3 separate regions of the Homo sapiens genome follow, and all the other regions are reported to be linked to region 1. Evidence: microRNA targets listed by miRTarBase, many of them from high-throughput screens and not tested one by one. Region 1 holds a microRNA gene; each other region holds the end of a gene's coding sequence.
The links. The annotated mature microRNA hsa-miR-3663-3p reads UGAGCACCACACAGGCCGGGCGC and lies in region 1 at 3,346-3,368, shown strand. An mRNA with a match to its seed (bases 2 to 7 or 8) in the 3' UTR can be bound and repressed. Matches are read on the target gene's strand: a 7mer-m8 pairs with bases 2 to 8, a 7mer-A1 pairs with bases 2 to 7 and ends in A, and an 8mer does both.

Region 1 (5,072 bases):
CCTGCTTCTGTGGTATATGTGTTAACCTACCCCATCTCTTTCCTCTTGCTTCTCATTGTGTGTTTAAAATTTATTCAACAATCTGTATGATTCAAGTATCTTAACTAGATCTTTCTATTGTATTACCTCCAGAATAGTTTGCCTGGTAGCGCAATAGTTTGCCTGGAGATTAATTTCCTATACAACATATTGAAATAGTGCATTGTGAATTGGCTACTATGACTGCTGATTAGGGTGAGGGTTAGGGTTAAACCAGTTTCTGAATCTAGCTACTCCCCCCTACCATAAAAACCACTTGCATTCAACAATTAGCCATTGCATTAAGTGCTAAAGATACAATGATGAGAAAACAGCCATGATTCCTGCCCTCATGAAGTTTAGAACAGAAGAAAGACTATCTGGTAATCACACAAATAAGTAACAAATAAATCTAACGTTTTAACCAGTGATAAACCCTCTGAAGAGAAAGTGCACTGAGGTCCTCTGAGAGCATATGCCAGGGGAATTTGACCCATTCAGAGAGGGTTAATTAAGCTAAGGGAAAAGGCATAAATGTCTCAGGCAGAAGGAATTGGCTATGCAAAGGCCACGTGATGGGATGATGTCATCAACCATTCTTTCAGCAGACAGCACTGACCCCGTGTGCCCAGCCGCATGCTAGAGGCAGGAATACAGGGGAGAAAGACCAGCACTGCCCCCAAGAAAAGCCCACGATGACTGTCGGACCTAGGAGGATCCTTGGAGAACCTGAAAAGGTTTCACATTGCATGGAGGATAAGACTAGAGCCTTATAAGATAAGACATCACTGAGAGTTCAGTTGTTAATCCTGGGAGGGGTGAACTCATGAATGATCACTGGGTGTGGTGGTGCATCCCTGGCTCTAGTCTTACCCTCCATGCAACGTGAAAACTTCTGATGCCCCAACTCAAACCTAATTTTCAAGCCTTCGTTAGCTAAAATCTCACCGAAGTCCAGCTTTAGGAGAAATAACAGATACTATTCCCTGGCTTATGCCAAACTCTTTACATGCATTGTTTTGTTTTTTTATCTTTGTAACAACCATGTGAGATTGCACTAAACTGACACTCAGAGAGAAGGTAAGTCATGCCCCCGAGTCATTCAGCTAATAAGTGAAAAGAAAAAAAAAAATCAAGATCCAAACCCAGGTCATTCTGGCCCTAGAGCTGAAACTCAGTGAAAACCAAGCTCTAGCCAGGAATTGTGGTTAAAATAAAGCTTCAGCCAGCTGGATACTCCAGGGTGTTTAGGAATGTGAAGTTTGTGGGTATATCTTGGTATTGTGGTTGTGTTGATGCTATTGTAGTTTTGGTAATGTGGTCATCTCTTGACAGTACATGCTGAAATGCTTGCAGATTAAGTGTGGCAAGGTCCAGGTTTTACTTCCAAATAATCTGTGTGAATAGGGGAAGCAGTGTGTGTGTAGGTTTTGACAGCTGGGGAGGCAGAGTCCGTGGGAAGGAGGGGAGGAAATAGATTGACCATAAAATAGATTTGCCTTCGTTATTTGGAGGTTGGGGACAGGTGCATGGGAGTTCACTATAATATTCTCTTTTCTTTCCTATATGTTGGAAATTTTCCATAAAATGTTTTTTTCCAAAACAAGTTAAGTTCTGGGTTATGTTTTGATGGCCTACTCCTTCATCTCCAAATCCCATAGACTTTCACAATTATATTTGCCCCCGTAATTGGAAGTTGTATGGGGCTGTTTCAAAAATCTGAGTCATCAAAGATGTAATTGACTTCCTACCGCCGGATTAGCAGGCAAAAATGTACCCGATACTTTCTCTACCGGCGCTGTGTTGGGCTCTGGGCTGAAACCCAGTCTCTCACAGGCCCTCGGAACAGCCCCACCAGTTAAGATCCATCCCTGACTTCCAACTCTGTAACTAGGGACAAGTTAATTGACTCCTCTTAGCCCTTAGTGTCCTCATCAATTATTACGTGGTAATAACCCCTCAGAGAGTCGCCGGGAGAATTAGCTCGGCGCGGTGCATGGGGCTAGAACTCAGGGCCCAGCAGGTCTGACAATGCAGGTTTCCCCGCTCGCCTGTTGGGTTTTTGAAACGCCCTCAGCGGGGTTTTCCTCCTAATTCTGGTTTGGAGGAGCCATCTCTCTCCATCCCGTCTGCCAGCGGGGTTTGCTTCACACACAGACGTGGGCAGATGGCATCGGGGACACAGGTGTGACTGCCGAGAAGGTTGCGGCGCATTGGCGGTTCGGTTCACGGGACGCGGGCGTGGGGTGTGTGGGGTGGGATGGTGTCGGGGGCGGGGGGGGGTGGACAAGAGGGTGTTTGGTGGTGGTTGGGAGTCCCGGCGATCTTTTTAAAATTCAGATGCCAACAGTTCTCCACCCCTGAACTTGAATGGGCTTTGGGTTTTTGTTTATTTGGGGCTTTTCTCCTCTTCCAAAGCACAGCGCTTGCCCCCAGCGGCCTGGCGTCGGGCTGGAGCCCGGCAGAGGGAGGGAGGAGACCGGCATCCGCGCTCGCTGATCAGAGAGAGCCGGGCCTGCTGCTGGGGAACGTGGAGGGGCTCCGGACAGCCACGCGCCCTGGCCGGTCACGGAAAGCTCTGAGGGACATTCGGTCGGCCGTCGGGGAAGAGGCTGGCCGCCGCAGCGCGAACTGGGGGTGCGGGTGGAGCGGCTAGAGGCGCCGGGGTGAGTGGGGATGGAGCCCCGAGGGCGTGGTGCGCGCTCGGCTTCCTGCCGCCAGGGGGCGCCCACAGGCAGAGCCGGGCGGGGCGGCAGCTACAGAGAGAGGGGTGCGTGGAGAGCGACCAGGCCAGGCCTGCAGAGCGCAGCCCCGGCGCCATGTCTCCAGGCTCGTTCCGACTAGTGTTGGGTCACCCTCGGCTCAGCCCCGGGGGAGGACGAAAGGGTTGCGTGCAAGGCCTAGCACCCAGTGGCCATTCATTAAATACGTGCTGGCTGACGAGCTCAGGAACGGCTCTAGGGAGCAGCTGGCTCGGAAACCTCAAGTCCAAGCCCACTCATTCCCGTCTCCCTCCCCGACGGCCTTTTAGTTACCGTGCCCTGGGCCGCGACGGCTTCCTTTTAGATTGGGGCAGCAAGGGAGCCCCTGCGCAGCGAGGACGCCGACGGGGCGGCGGGGAGGGGTTGTCCGGCGGTATCCCCGCTCCGTGCTCCTCGCCTTCCACTGCCTCCCCGGGACACAGCAGTCATGGCTTCGACTGTGACTTCTTAACTGGCTCCTCCCTGATCGCTGAGCTAAGCCACAGGAGAAGGGGAGGAGGGCTTCCTTCCCGGGACCTTGGTCCAGGCGCTGGTCTGCGTGGTGCTCGGGTGGATAAGTCTGATCTGAGCACCACACAGGCCGGGCGCCGGGACCAAGGGGGCTCGACAAGAGGATCTCAGAACAAGCTGAGTCTCTGGAACTAGCTGGGGTGCGTGGAAGTACGCGCCACGGCCCGCGATTCCTGGGAGCGTGTCTCAACTTCTGCCAGTGCCAACGCAGGAGAGAGAATTGCGGCTCAGAGAGGGTAGCGTGAATGGAAACCGAAGGGCGAGAGCTTGGCTCTCTAATGCCACCCAACTTAGTGGTTCAGAGCTTGGCCTCCAAGGAAGATTCAGTTCAAGTCCCCGCTCTCCAACTTACCAGCTGTGTGATCTTGGGGGAAGTTAACCTCTCTGAGTCTGTTTCCTGCTCTGTAAAATGGAAATTTAAAAACTTAAACATCTACTTCGGTCGAGGCTGTTGTGAAGAAGTGGGATTGTGGGTGCATAGCTCTTAGCACAGTGCCTGGCACAGGTTAAGGCTGGATACGTGGCAGCTGTGAGGCCCAGTGTTCTCGTAGCTGGCCTGGCCAGATGCAATCATAAGCGAAGATGACTCACTTCCCACAGCAGAGGTGTGCGAAGCCCTGCGCACCTGCTGTAGTCTGCACCCGGGCAGAAGAGAACCCAGGAGCGTCGGGACCTCCAACACTCAGCCCTCAGGGCTGAGGACACTGCGCTGTTTCTGCCCCTTCTAAAACCGGAGGCCGCGATGCCCCTGTGCAGTACCGGCTGGCGCCCACCCTACAAGCTGATTCCTGGGGGCCTTTCCTGCAGCGGACGCCGGCAACCATCACGACCGACCTTGACTGAACACATGTGGGCATCCTAAGGACATTACCTCAATCCTCACACCATTCCTGAAAAAAAAAAAAACAAAGAAACTGGTGCTCAGAGAGGCGAAGTAACTCACTCAAGGTCACACAGCTAGAGGGTGGCCAAGCTGGGACTCCAACCCACTCTGGCTCCGGAGCTGGCGCCGCTTCCTTCCTACCTCTCTATCAAGCTCAGTCTCAAAGCCTGGGACAAACCATCCGGTTGGGGTGGGAAAGGCCACGCACGTCCTGGGGTCGAGGACCCTGTGCCCACGACAGCAGTCTTCTCGGCACCCGTAGAAGCCAGTGCCAGACAAGTTGGGTTGGAAGGGGCAGGCTGGGCTGGCGGAAGGGGGCTCTGGGCCCCGCCCTGCCTGCGCCCCCCGCGGATCACGCCTCCGTGCTCAAGCTCCTGCCAAGTTTGCCCCCATCTCTCAGGTGCCCTTGGACTGAGTGACTAAGCACCTCGGCACCTCTCCAGCCTGGGGTGCGAGGAGGGGCTGGCCCTGATACCCACTTCCTTTCTTCTCTGGAAAGCCAAGGTGCCAACGAAAGATGCCCTGGAAGCTGGTGTTCCTTAAAGAATGAACAGTCCCAGCTCCAAACGTGTCTCTCTGAACGCAAGCCTCTTCCTTCCGTTCGCCTGGGCCTGTAGTCGAAGTCTCCTTGGGTCCCCAGCCCCCTCCCGGGTAGACGTCAGCCTGGAGGTGGATGCCGGAGTCGAGAAGGGTTGCGGACCATGCTGGGGACCTGGCTCAGGCAGTCAGGGGTCCGGGTCCTCTTTGGGGAAGTGAGCGCTTGAGGAGGAGGGAGAAAGGCTTTTGAGTACGGCTTGGGGGGACTTCTTGAGGTCCCTCGGGATAGCTTCTCTGTTAGGCGTGTAGCCAGGAAAGGAGAAAAAATCTGTCCCGCGCAGCCCAGGGAGGAGCCTTGCAGC
Region 2 (5,060 bases), not on the chromosome of region 1:
AGGTCATGCAAGAGGTCAAAGGTCATGTCTGTTTAACTCCTCTCTACTCCAGTGATCTTTTAGAAAGAAAACAGAAGAAAGCCAAAGCTTACCACATCAGAGAAACCACTGTCATCATGCAAAGATTTGGAACAGACAGGAACCTGGGGGCCTCCAATTTTGACAATATCTCTTTCAAATTGAAACGTGAGTTACTTTAAGCAAGTTTGGTGTTTCATTCTGTTGGAATTTACCACCATGAGCATTTCCATAGACTTCGGATACGGGATCTTTGATTCTCTATAGTAAAGTCTGTGAGTTCCAGCAGATGCAGCGACCCATAACATAGACCTATGTCAAACCCTAATGTAGGTGATAACTAGCAACTTCATTCGCAGGTCTTCACCACTGTCATTATGAGCCATATCCTGCTTTCTCCACTGTGCTACACGTGACATATGTTAACACAGCCATCAAGTTTAGCCTCTCAGACTTCTGCTGAAAACAGAGGAAAAGGGTTCCGTTTAGGGTATAGTAAAACAAGTTAAATGACACCACAGGAAGAAACAAACAAATCCAGAAAGCAGAATATTCTACAGCACAACTGACCCAGTTTTTACAATAAATAAATAACATGGGGAACTGAGGAAGGGAGGGGAGCTTGCTCCAGACTGACAGACTAAAGAGACACAACAACCAGATGCGATTGGTGGGCTTCATATAGATCCTCGATTAGAACCAGATTACTGTCCAAGGACATTCATGACCTTCAGGACAATTTGATTTTGCCTAGGTATTAAGTGTACCAAGGAATCACTTTGTTAGGTATAAAAATGGTACTGTGGGCCGGGCGCTGTGGCTTATGCCTATAATCCCAGCACTTTGGGAGGCCTAAGCGGGCGATCACGAGGTCAGGAGCTCGAGACCAGCCTGGCCAACATGGTGAAACCCCATCTCTACTGAAGATACAAAAAAAAATTAGCTGGGCATGGTGGCGCACACCTGTAATCCCAGCTACCCGGGGGGCTGAGGCAGGAGAATCGCCTGAACCTGGGAGGCAGAGGTTGCAGTGAGCCAAGATCACGCCATTGCACTCCAGCCTGGGCGACAGTGTGAGACTCTATCTCAAAAAAAAAAAACAGAGGTACTGTGGTTTATACAAGAAAATGGCCATATTTTCCATAGAAACTTACTGAAGGATATAGGGGTGAAATGATAAGCTATCTGGGATTTGCTTTTAAATACTTTAGCAAAGAAGGAAACAGGGAAAATGAAGCAACTGGGACAAAATCTTGGTAATTTTTATATCTGGGTGATATGTATATAAGGCTTCAATGTACTATTCATGTACTTTTGAATATGTTTAAATTTTTTCATGCTTAAAAAATTCATGTAAATCCAGGTGATGATTCTCAAAAGAAAATTTTAAAGAATTAATGTTGAAAATTGAAGCACTTAACTAAAAATATTTGGTAATAAAATGTATAAAAGTCCCAAATCTACACTATAGGAAACCAGCTTATAAAAACACAGTTTTGTCTTTTCCTTGGGAAGAATTCTAAGAAACAGAAGTTCTAGTGCTAAGAGTCTGGATCCCCTGGCAGCCAGAGAGCCTGAGTGGCTCTTTTCCCTCTTCTCTCCCTGCACACCACATGTCCACAGGGCAACTGACCACACCTGCCTCTCCCTGGCCAGCAAAACCAGCCAGGAACTGGCTTCAGAGAGCTCAGCCTCTGTGCCATGTTCCCATATGTTTCTCAGGTTTGGGGCAAGGGTGACATGGAGAGGGAAAGGTTTGCTTGTTGTAACAAACAGTGATTTCTCTGGCCCCTAAAGAGAGGTGGGTTTACAAAGATGATCCATGTTAAATTCCACTACCATGATGCTTCAAGGGACTAACAAATGCTTCATGGATGGATATACCTGCATCATAATCTCGTTAGTAGTACATTCCTGAATTCCTTCAAAAAACACTCTTATTACAATTTTTAAATAATAGATTACTTGATATTCCTTTTTACATCTGTCAGTGACACATGGAGTAAGTAGAGCTCACTACTGATTAACACCCTTCTAGCTTCTAGCTTCAGTGGCCGTAGACCCTCAGTTCAGGAGTCAAAACATGCAAATGATGGGGGGAAAATGACCCTTAGTTCCTCCTTAACTCAGTAAGTCAAATAATGACTTGGTGAGTTGGCTGCTGTAACAGTAAATCTTATATTGCCACACATTCCTGGAAGCCACAGACAAGACACTTGTCCTCTCCTTCAACTCTCTGTTGAAAGAGAAAAGTAAAGAAAACACACCAAGATAGCTCATCCAATTTTTGTGACTTGTTTAATCTAATTAATTATATAAGTAGTAACGGCAGCTAAAATCCAAATCAACTTTAGCTTCATAAGAATTGTTATAGGCCAGGCGCAGTGGCTCACGCCTGTAATCCCAGCACTTTGGGGGGTCAAGGCAGGAAGATCATTTGAGCCCAGGCATTCAAGACCAGCCTGGGCAACATAGTGAGACTCCATCTTGTATAATTATTAAAAATAAATAAATAAAAATTTTAAAATAATTGTTATGACACAGTGGCTCACACCTGTAATCCCAACATTTTGAGAGGCCAAGGCAGGAGGATTACTCGAGCCCAGAAGTTCTAGACCAGCCATGGCAACATAGTAAGACCCTGTCTCCACAAAAAAGTTTTAAAAATAAGCCAGGTGTGGTGATGCATGCCTGTAACCGCTGCTACTCAGGAGGCTGAGGTGAGAGGATCACTTGAGCCTGAGAAGTCAAGACTACAGTGAGCCATGGTCGCACCACTACACTACTGCCTGGGCAACAGAATGAGACCCCGTGTCAAACACACACACACACACACACACACACACACACACAAACTGTTATACTGGCTGGGGGCAATGGCTCACACCTGTAATCCTTGGACTTTGGGAGGCAGAGGTGGGAGGCTTGCTTGAGCCCAAGAGTTCAAGGCCAGCCTGGGCAAGATGGGAGACCCCATCTCTACAAAAAATTTAAAAATTAGTCAGGCGTGGTGGCACTTGCCTATAGTCCCAGCTACTCTGGAGGCTGAGGAGGGAGAACTGCTTGAGCCCAGGAGGTTAAGGCTGCAATAAACCGTGATCCTGCCACTGCACTCCAGCCTGGGCAGCAGAGCGAGACCCCGTCTCAAACAAAACAAAACAAAAGAAGAATTGTTATTTAAAGTTAAAACTCACTATCTGTCGAGTTCCTAATTCTTTTTCCACCTTACAACTATTCTCCAAAACAATGCATTTGTAGTCACCAGAATTGCTTGAATTTCTGGGTTATAAAATGTGTGAATACTCCCCATCCCAATTTCTTGAATTTAAGAATGCCACTTCTGGCCAAGCGCGGTGGCTCATGCCTGTGATCCCAACACTTTCGGAGGTGGAGGCAGGTGGATCACGAGGTCAGTAGATCGAGACCATCCTGGCCAACATAATGAAACCCCATCTCTACTAAAAATACAAAAATTAGCTAGGCGCAGTGGCACGTGCCTATAGTCCCAGCTACTCGGGAGGCTGTGGCAGGAGAATCATTTGAACCTGGGAGGCAGAGGTTGCAGTGAGCCGAGATCCCGCCACTGCACTCCAGCCTGGTGACAGAGCAAGACTCCGTCTCAAAAAAAAAAAAAAGCCACTTCTCTTTCTGAATATTATTAATATAAGTAACTGGGTTGGTTTATCTTAGGTATATGATTAGATAGCATGAAAAATACCTCAGGTTCCAGTTTAAATCATTGCGTATTTAAGCACTGATTTTACCAAATGTAATATATAAAGGCAAACAATTTACACAACTTAAATTGTTATTTTTCTTTTTTCTTTGCTTCTAGATATGATGCCTTAAGAACAATTCAACAGCCAGGCATGGTGGCTCATGCCTGTAATCCCAGCACTTTGGGAGGCTGAGGCAGGCGGATCACGAGGTCAGGAGTTCGAGACCAGCCTGACCAACGTGGTAAAACCCTGTCTATACTAAAAATACAAAAATTAGCCAGGCGTGGTGACACGTGCTTGTAATCCCAGCTACTCAGGAGGCTGAGGCAGGAGAATCACCTGAACCTGGGAGGCGGAGGTTACAGTGAGCCGAGATCATACCACTGCACTCTGGCCTGGGCGACAGAGCAACACTCTGTCTTAAAAAAAAGAGAAAAAGAACAACTCTATTTGTTCACATAAATTTCCTTCAACATACATTGCAGCTAAGATGTGTACAAGATTTTACATGTATTTTGGAAGAAATCACACAGAAGCAGCTGCTTTTTCAATAAACTTGGCCAGCTTCACATCTTTTTTGGTCAGTTCACCACAGTCATGTGAGGTGAGAGTTATCTGGACCTAAGAAAAAGAAAAGCAGTTTTTAAAACTCTGAGCAGCAAATCATGGTTATTTTCCTTTGGCAGTTCAGAAATCAGTCTATTATTCAACATTCATATTTGAGAATTAGGGGGATTAAATGATTTAGAAAATACTACATTATGAATAAGCAAAACATTTCCAAAACCCAGCGAACTCCAGGGGCATAGTCTACATTAGGCCTGGCTCAACAGCCACCTTGAAATAAAAAGTTCTCTTCCATGAAGAGGCAATGCAGCTGCCAGAATCTCAAATCTTGTTTCTTTAAATAAAAAGAGAGACTGAGGTTCCAATTGAACTCTCGTTACTTTAATTACATCAACTATTTTCAGGCCACTGAGAAAAACCAAGCTATCAAATGTAATATCTTAGCAGCAACGTTTAAAAAGCACATTTTGGCTGGGCATGGTGGCTCACACCTGTAATCTCAGCACTTTGGGAGGCCGGATCACCTGAGTTCAGGAGTTTGAGACCACCCTGGCCAACATGGTGAAACCCCGTATCTACTAAAAATATAAAAGTTACCCTGCACGCCTGTGATCCCAGCTACTCGGGAGGCTGAGGCAGCAGAATCGCTTGAACCCGGGAGGTGGAGGCTGCAGTGAGCTGAGATCGCAGCACTGCACTCCAGCCTGGGCAACAGAGCCAGACTCCAACTCAAAAAAAAAAAAAAAAAAAAAAAAA
Region 3 (5,060 bases), not on the chromosome of region 1:
CAGCGCCTGTCCATCTCCAAGGGCCACGCCTTCATCCTGGTGTTCTCCGTCACCAGCAAGCAGTCGCTGGAGGAGCTGGGGCCCATCTACAAGCTCATCGTGCAGATCAAGGGCAGCGTGGAGGACATCCCCGTGATGCTCGTGGGCAACAAGTGCGATGAGACGCAGCGGGAGGTGGACACGCGCGAGGCGCAGGCGGTGGCCCAGGAGTGGAAGTGCGCTTTCATGGAGACCTCGGCCAAGATGAACTACAACGTCAAGGAGCTCTTCCAGGAGCTGCTGACGCTGGAGACGCGCCGGAACATGAGCCTCAACATCGACGGCAAGCGCTCCGGGAAGCAGAAGAGGACAGACCGCGTCAAGGGCAAATGCACCCTCATGTGAGCCCGGAACGCCCGCCTGCCCGCCGCCCACCCCCACTGACCCCCGCTGCCTCCCCCAACACCGACACCCTCCTCGGCCTCCTCCTCTTCTCTCATCCTTCCTCCGACACCTCGGCTGGGGAAACCGAGGCCACCGCCCCCCCCTCCGCTGCCCCTGCCCACCCCGAGGCAGGGCTGGGGCTTTTCTTCCTCCCCTGCTCTCTCTCCACCCTCCTGTTCTGTCTGTACCCTCCAAAACCAAGAGCCGGAGGTGGCCCCCTTGTCCTGCAGATGGGAAAACAGGATGGGGAGCTGGCAAGAGGAGCTGCTTGTTCCCACCAGGACCAGAGGAGGCTGCGTTTCCCCGTTTCCATCTCTTTCCCTGGGGTGTCCCCAGCCAGACCTGCGCGTCCTGTCCCTCACATTTGATCACTGTGACCTTCTGGGGGAGGGGGGAGTTGAAAATGCACATCGGCCTCAGATATTTTTTTCTTTTTTCTCCTATTTGGTGTTAACATACACCCAAGCCCACCCGGCCCGTCGTGACCTCTGATCTGTGCCCACTCCTCCGGTTCCAGACGCACCTCTCTCCTCTGTCTTCACAGTGGGGTGTGGGGCCCGTGGGATGGGCCTCAGGCCACCAGGCAATAACCACAGGGCCTGCAGCAGTGCCCCTGCCAGCCCCGAATCCCACCCCCGGGACCAGCCACATCCACAGCACAACTGCCCCGCTGGAGAGGCACCATGGGCGTGGAGGGGCTTCCCGGACACCGCCCACCCGGGACCCGCCTCTTCCACCAAGACAGAGACGTTAGCAACGCATGGCGGGTGGGGACCTGGGGTGCTCAGGAGGGGGTACCCGGGGCCCCGGCCAGAGATACATCAATTACACCCCCGTGGGGGGACAGCCGATGGGAGCCAGCACCAGCAGGATCCGAGGGCGCCCCGGACAGAGGTCTGCCCCACCCACTTCCTCCCCACCACCTGTGCCCCAGAGAGCAGGGCCTGCCCGGGAAGGTGGCGTCCTGGAGTCGAGTGTACCTGCAGCCATGAGGTTCTGGGTGTTTTTTGAGAGAGTCTGAGTGACACCACACTCGTGTGACCCCACAGGGTTGTGTCCAACATACACGGAAGTGGCTATGGAATGGTGTATTTGTGCAACCTGGGGTGCGCGGATGGGTGACTTGTATCTAAGTGCATCTGCGTGTATACCTGTGTGTGTCTGTCTGGGATGATATGTTTTTGTGGCAGTCTGTGTGTGTAATAGTGGTGTAGGGTATACAGAGAGGTGGGTAGTTGTAGATACCTGTGTGTGGTTGTCAGCAAGACTGGATATGTGTGAGGTGTCTGTGTGAATCTTTGTGCCTGTATGAGCATGACTATATTTTGGGGAGTGGGTGATATGGTTTATCTGAGAGCATTTATCTGTAAATATGTTTGTCCTGATTGAGGGACACGATCTGTGTTCCACTCTATAGCAACATGACTCTAGCAATGTGACTTTCGGTTCCAAATCTGTATCAGTCAGCTACTGCTGTGTAACAAATGACCACAAATGTAGCAACCAGAAACAACACATGCTTATTATCTCATAGATTCTGTGGGTCAAGAGCCTGGGTGCAGGTTGGCTGGGTCCTCTACTTGGGATCTCAGGAGGCTGCAATCAAAGCATTCGCCAGGCAGAGGTCTCATCTGAAGGCCTGATCGGGGAAGGATTTGCTTCTTAGAAGCTCATGTGGTTGTTGCAGCATTCAGTTCCTTGCTGTTGCAAGACTGAAGGCCTCAGTTCCTCGCTGGCTGTTGGCTGGAAGCTGCCCTTTGTTCTGTACCATGTGGGTCTCTCCACAGCGGGGCTCGGAGCATGGCAGCTAAGTTAGTGAGGGAAGGTGAGATGGAGGTTTTGGTCTTATTGGGTGTGAGGAAGCAACGTGTGTGTGTGCGCACGCCCTTTTGTGCAGTGAGAGAGAGAGAGAGATTGCACACATGTGTCTCTGTAGTCATGTGGCCAGGTGGGACTATGTAGGTAACAGATTGCTCGTGTCTGATTTGGTACAAGCATGTTTGTTTTCCTCTGTGTTCGTGTGAGTGTTTACTCAACAAATGTTTATTGGACACACTCAGAGAGAGGGAGTGTGCACACGTGCGTGTGTGTTGCTATCCAGCACGTGGACCGGGCTCCCAGAAGAGCTGGCATTGTGTCTGAGCAGAGCTGGGTCCCCCCAAAACTTGGGCTGGCCCAGGGCCCACCAGCAGCTGATGTTGCCTCCTCTCCTGTCCTGGCAGTAGCTTCTGGGTTCTGAAGGTGCCGGAGAGAGTGAGGCTGGGCAGGGGTCTGCGGCCCTTTCTCAGGGACACACCCTGATAGCACAATCTCCTTGGGGCCCTGCCCACCTCCAGGCCTCTCCCACCTCAGGCCCTGCCCGACCCTGGGGAGAGAGGGCATCTGCAATAGGAGGGGACCCGAGCCTGTCCTGGCTGCTGGCCCATCCTGCCTGGGCATCCCTGGTGCTGGGGACTGTGCCAGGCCATGCTTGCTGTGACTCCGCCCCTGCCCCCTCTCCCCCCGCATGTGGGTGCCCCCACTCCCCCATCGTGGGGTCTGTGTAGCCTTCGCTCTAGACATAGTCTTCCTGCAATAAAAAAGTGGATCCTGCATTCCCCACCAGCATGGCGCCCTGTCTCTGTGGTGGGCGTGGGGTGTCAGCTCACCGCCTGTAAAGGATCAAGAAGGGTGGGGAGGTGCAGGATGGGGTGAAGGGTGAAGGAGGTGATGGGTGTAGGAAGTGAGGGATGGGATGAAGGGTGGAGGAGGTGATGGGTGTAGGAAGTGAGGGATGGGATGAAGGGTGGAGGAGGTGATGGGTGTAGGAAGTGAGGGATGGGATGAAGGGTGGAGGAGGTGGTGGGTGGAGGAAGTGAGGGATGGGGTGAAGGGTTGAGAAGGTGGTGGGTGTAGGAAGTGAGGGATGGGATGAAGGGTGGAGGAGGTGACGGGTGTAGGAAGTGAGGGATGGGGTGAAGGGTGGAGGAGGTGGTGGGTGTAGGAAGTGAGGGATGGGATGAAGGGTGGAGGAAGTGGTGGGTGTAGGAAGTGAGGGATGGTGTGAAGGGTGGAGGAGGTGATGGGTGTAGGAAGTGAGGGATGGGGTGAAGGGTGGAGGAGGTGGTGGGTGGAGGAAGTGAGGGATGGGATGAAGGGTGGAGGAGGTGATGGGTGTAGGAAGTGAGGGATGGGATGAAGGGTGGAGGAGGTGGTGGGTGTAGGAAGTGAGGAATGGGATGAAGGGTGGAGGAGGTGGTGGGTGTAGGAAGTGAGGAATGGGATGAAGGGTGGAGGAGGTGACGGGTGTAGGAAGTGAGGGATGGGATGAAGGGTGGAGGAGGTGGTGGGTGTAGGAAGTGAGGGATGGGATGAAGGGTGGAGGAGGTGACGGGTGTAGGAAGTGAGGGATGGGATGAAGGGTGGAGGAGGTGGTGGGTGTAGGAAGTGAGGGATGGGATGAAGGGTGGAGGAGGTGACGGGTGTAGGAAGTGAGGGATGGGATGAAGGGTGGAGGAGGTGGTGGGTGTAGGAAGTGAGGAATGGGATGAAGGGTGGAGGAGGTGACGGGTGTAGGAAGTGAGGGATGGGATGAAGGGTGGAGGAGGTGGTGCGTGGAGGAAGTGAGGGATGGGATGAAGGGTGGAGGAGGTGATGGGTGTAGACAGTGATGGATGGGATGAAGGGTGGAGGAGGTGATGGGTGTAGGAAGTGAGAGATGGCATTAAGGGTGGAGGAGGTGGTGGGTGTAGGAAGTGAGGGATGGGATGAAGGGTGGAGGAGGTGATCGGTGTAGACAGTGACGGATGGGATGAAGGGTGGAGGAGGTGATGGGTGTAGGAAGTGAGGGATGGGATGAAGGGTGGAGGAGGTGGTGGGTGTAGGAAGTGAGGAATGGGATGAAGGGTGGAGGAGGTGGTGGGTGTAGGAAGTGAGGTATGGGGTGAAGGGTGGAGGAGGTGATGGGTGTAGGAAGTGAGGTATGGGGTGAAGGGTGGAGGAGGCGATGGGTGTAGGAAGTGAGGGATGGGATGAAGGATGGAGGAGGTGATGGGTGGAGGAAGTGAGGGATGGGAGGAAGGGTGGAGGAGGTGGTGGGTGTAGAAAGTGAGGGATGGGGTGAAGAGTGGAGGAGGGGACCTGTGTAGGAAGCGAAGGATGGGATGGTGGTGGGGAGGTGGAGGGAGTGGGTTGAGGACATGCAGCAGGGGAGGCAAGGCAGGACCCGTCTGGGACTCTGCTTGGAGATGTCTTTATGTGGCTTTTTTCTAGGGTGTTGGTTTCCAGATTCACTCTGTGCACATTAGCTGGGGACATCCTCCCAGCTGGACTTTCTGTGAACGTGGACAATTTCCTTGCAGGCCCAGTGGCGTTGGGGCAGAGGAGACTGTATTAGTCCATTCTTGGAATGCTATAAAGAAATACCCAGGCCGGGCACGGTGGCTCATGCCTGTAGTCCCAGCACTTTGGGAGGCCGAGAAGGGCATATTACCTGAGACCAGAAGTTTGAGACCAGCCTGGCTCACATGGCAAAACCCTGTCTCTACTAAAAATACAAAAAATTAGCTGGGCGTGGTGGCGGGAGTCTGTAATCCCAACTACTAGGGAGGCTGAGGCAGGAGGATCACTTGAACCCGGGAGGCGGAGCTTGCAGTGAG

Region 2: the mRNA of PCBD2 is a reported target of hsa-miR-3663-3p. The part of its 3' UTR that is shown has no 7-base or 8-base seed match.
Region 3: miRTarBase lists DIRAS1 as a target of hsa-miR-3663-3p. Seed matches in the 3' UTR shown: 8mer at 1,203-1,210.

The regions. Positions count from the first base shown.
Region 1 is chr10:117,165,991-117,171,062 of GRCh38, reverse strand. MIR3663 (microRNA 3663) reads left to right here and starts at 3,289; the gene lies at 3,289-3,385. MIR3663HG (MIR3663 host gene) reads left to right here and starts at 2,008. Exons shown (of 3, transcript NR_121651.1): 1 at 2,008-2,203. RefSeq lists an enhancer at 4,916-5,072.
Region 2 is chr5:134,959,884-134,964,943 of GRCh38, reverse strand. PCBD2 (pterin-4 alpha-carbinolamine dehydratase 2) reads right to left here. Exons shown (of 4, transcript NM_032151.5): 4 at 2,300-4,358. The coding sequence ends at 4,263. Among named protein-coding and RNA genes, the nearest start is that of CATSPER3, 5.5 kb to the left of the region's middle.
Region 3 is chr19:2,712,534-2,717,593 of GRCh38, reverse strand. DIRAS1 (DIRAS family GTPase 1) reads left to right here. Exons shown (of 2, transcript NM_145173.4): 2 at 1-3,027. The coding sequence ends at 384. Among named protein-coding and RNA genes, the nearest start is that of DIRAS1, 6.3 kb to the left of the region's middle.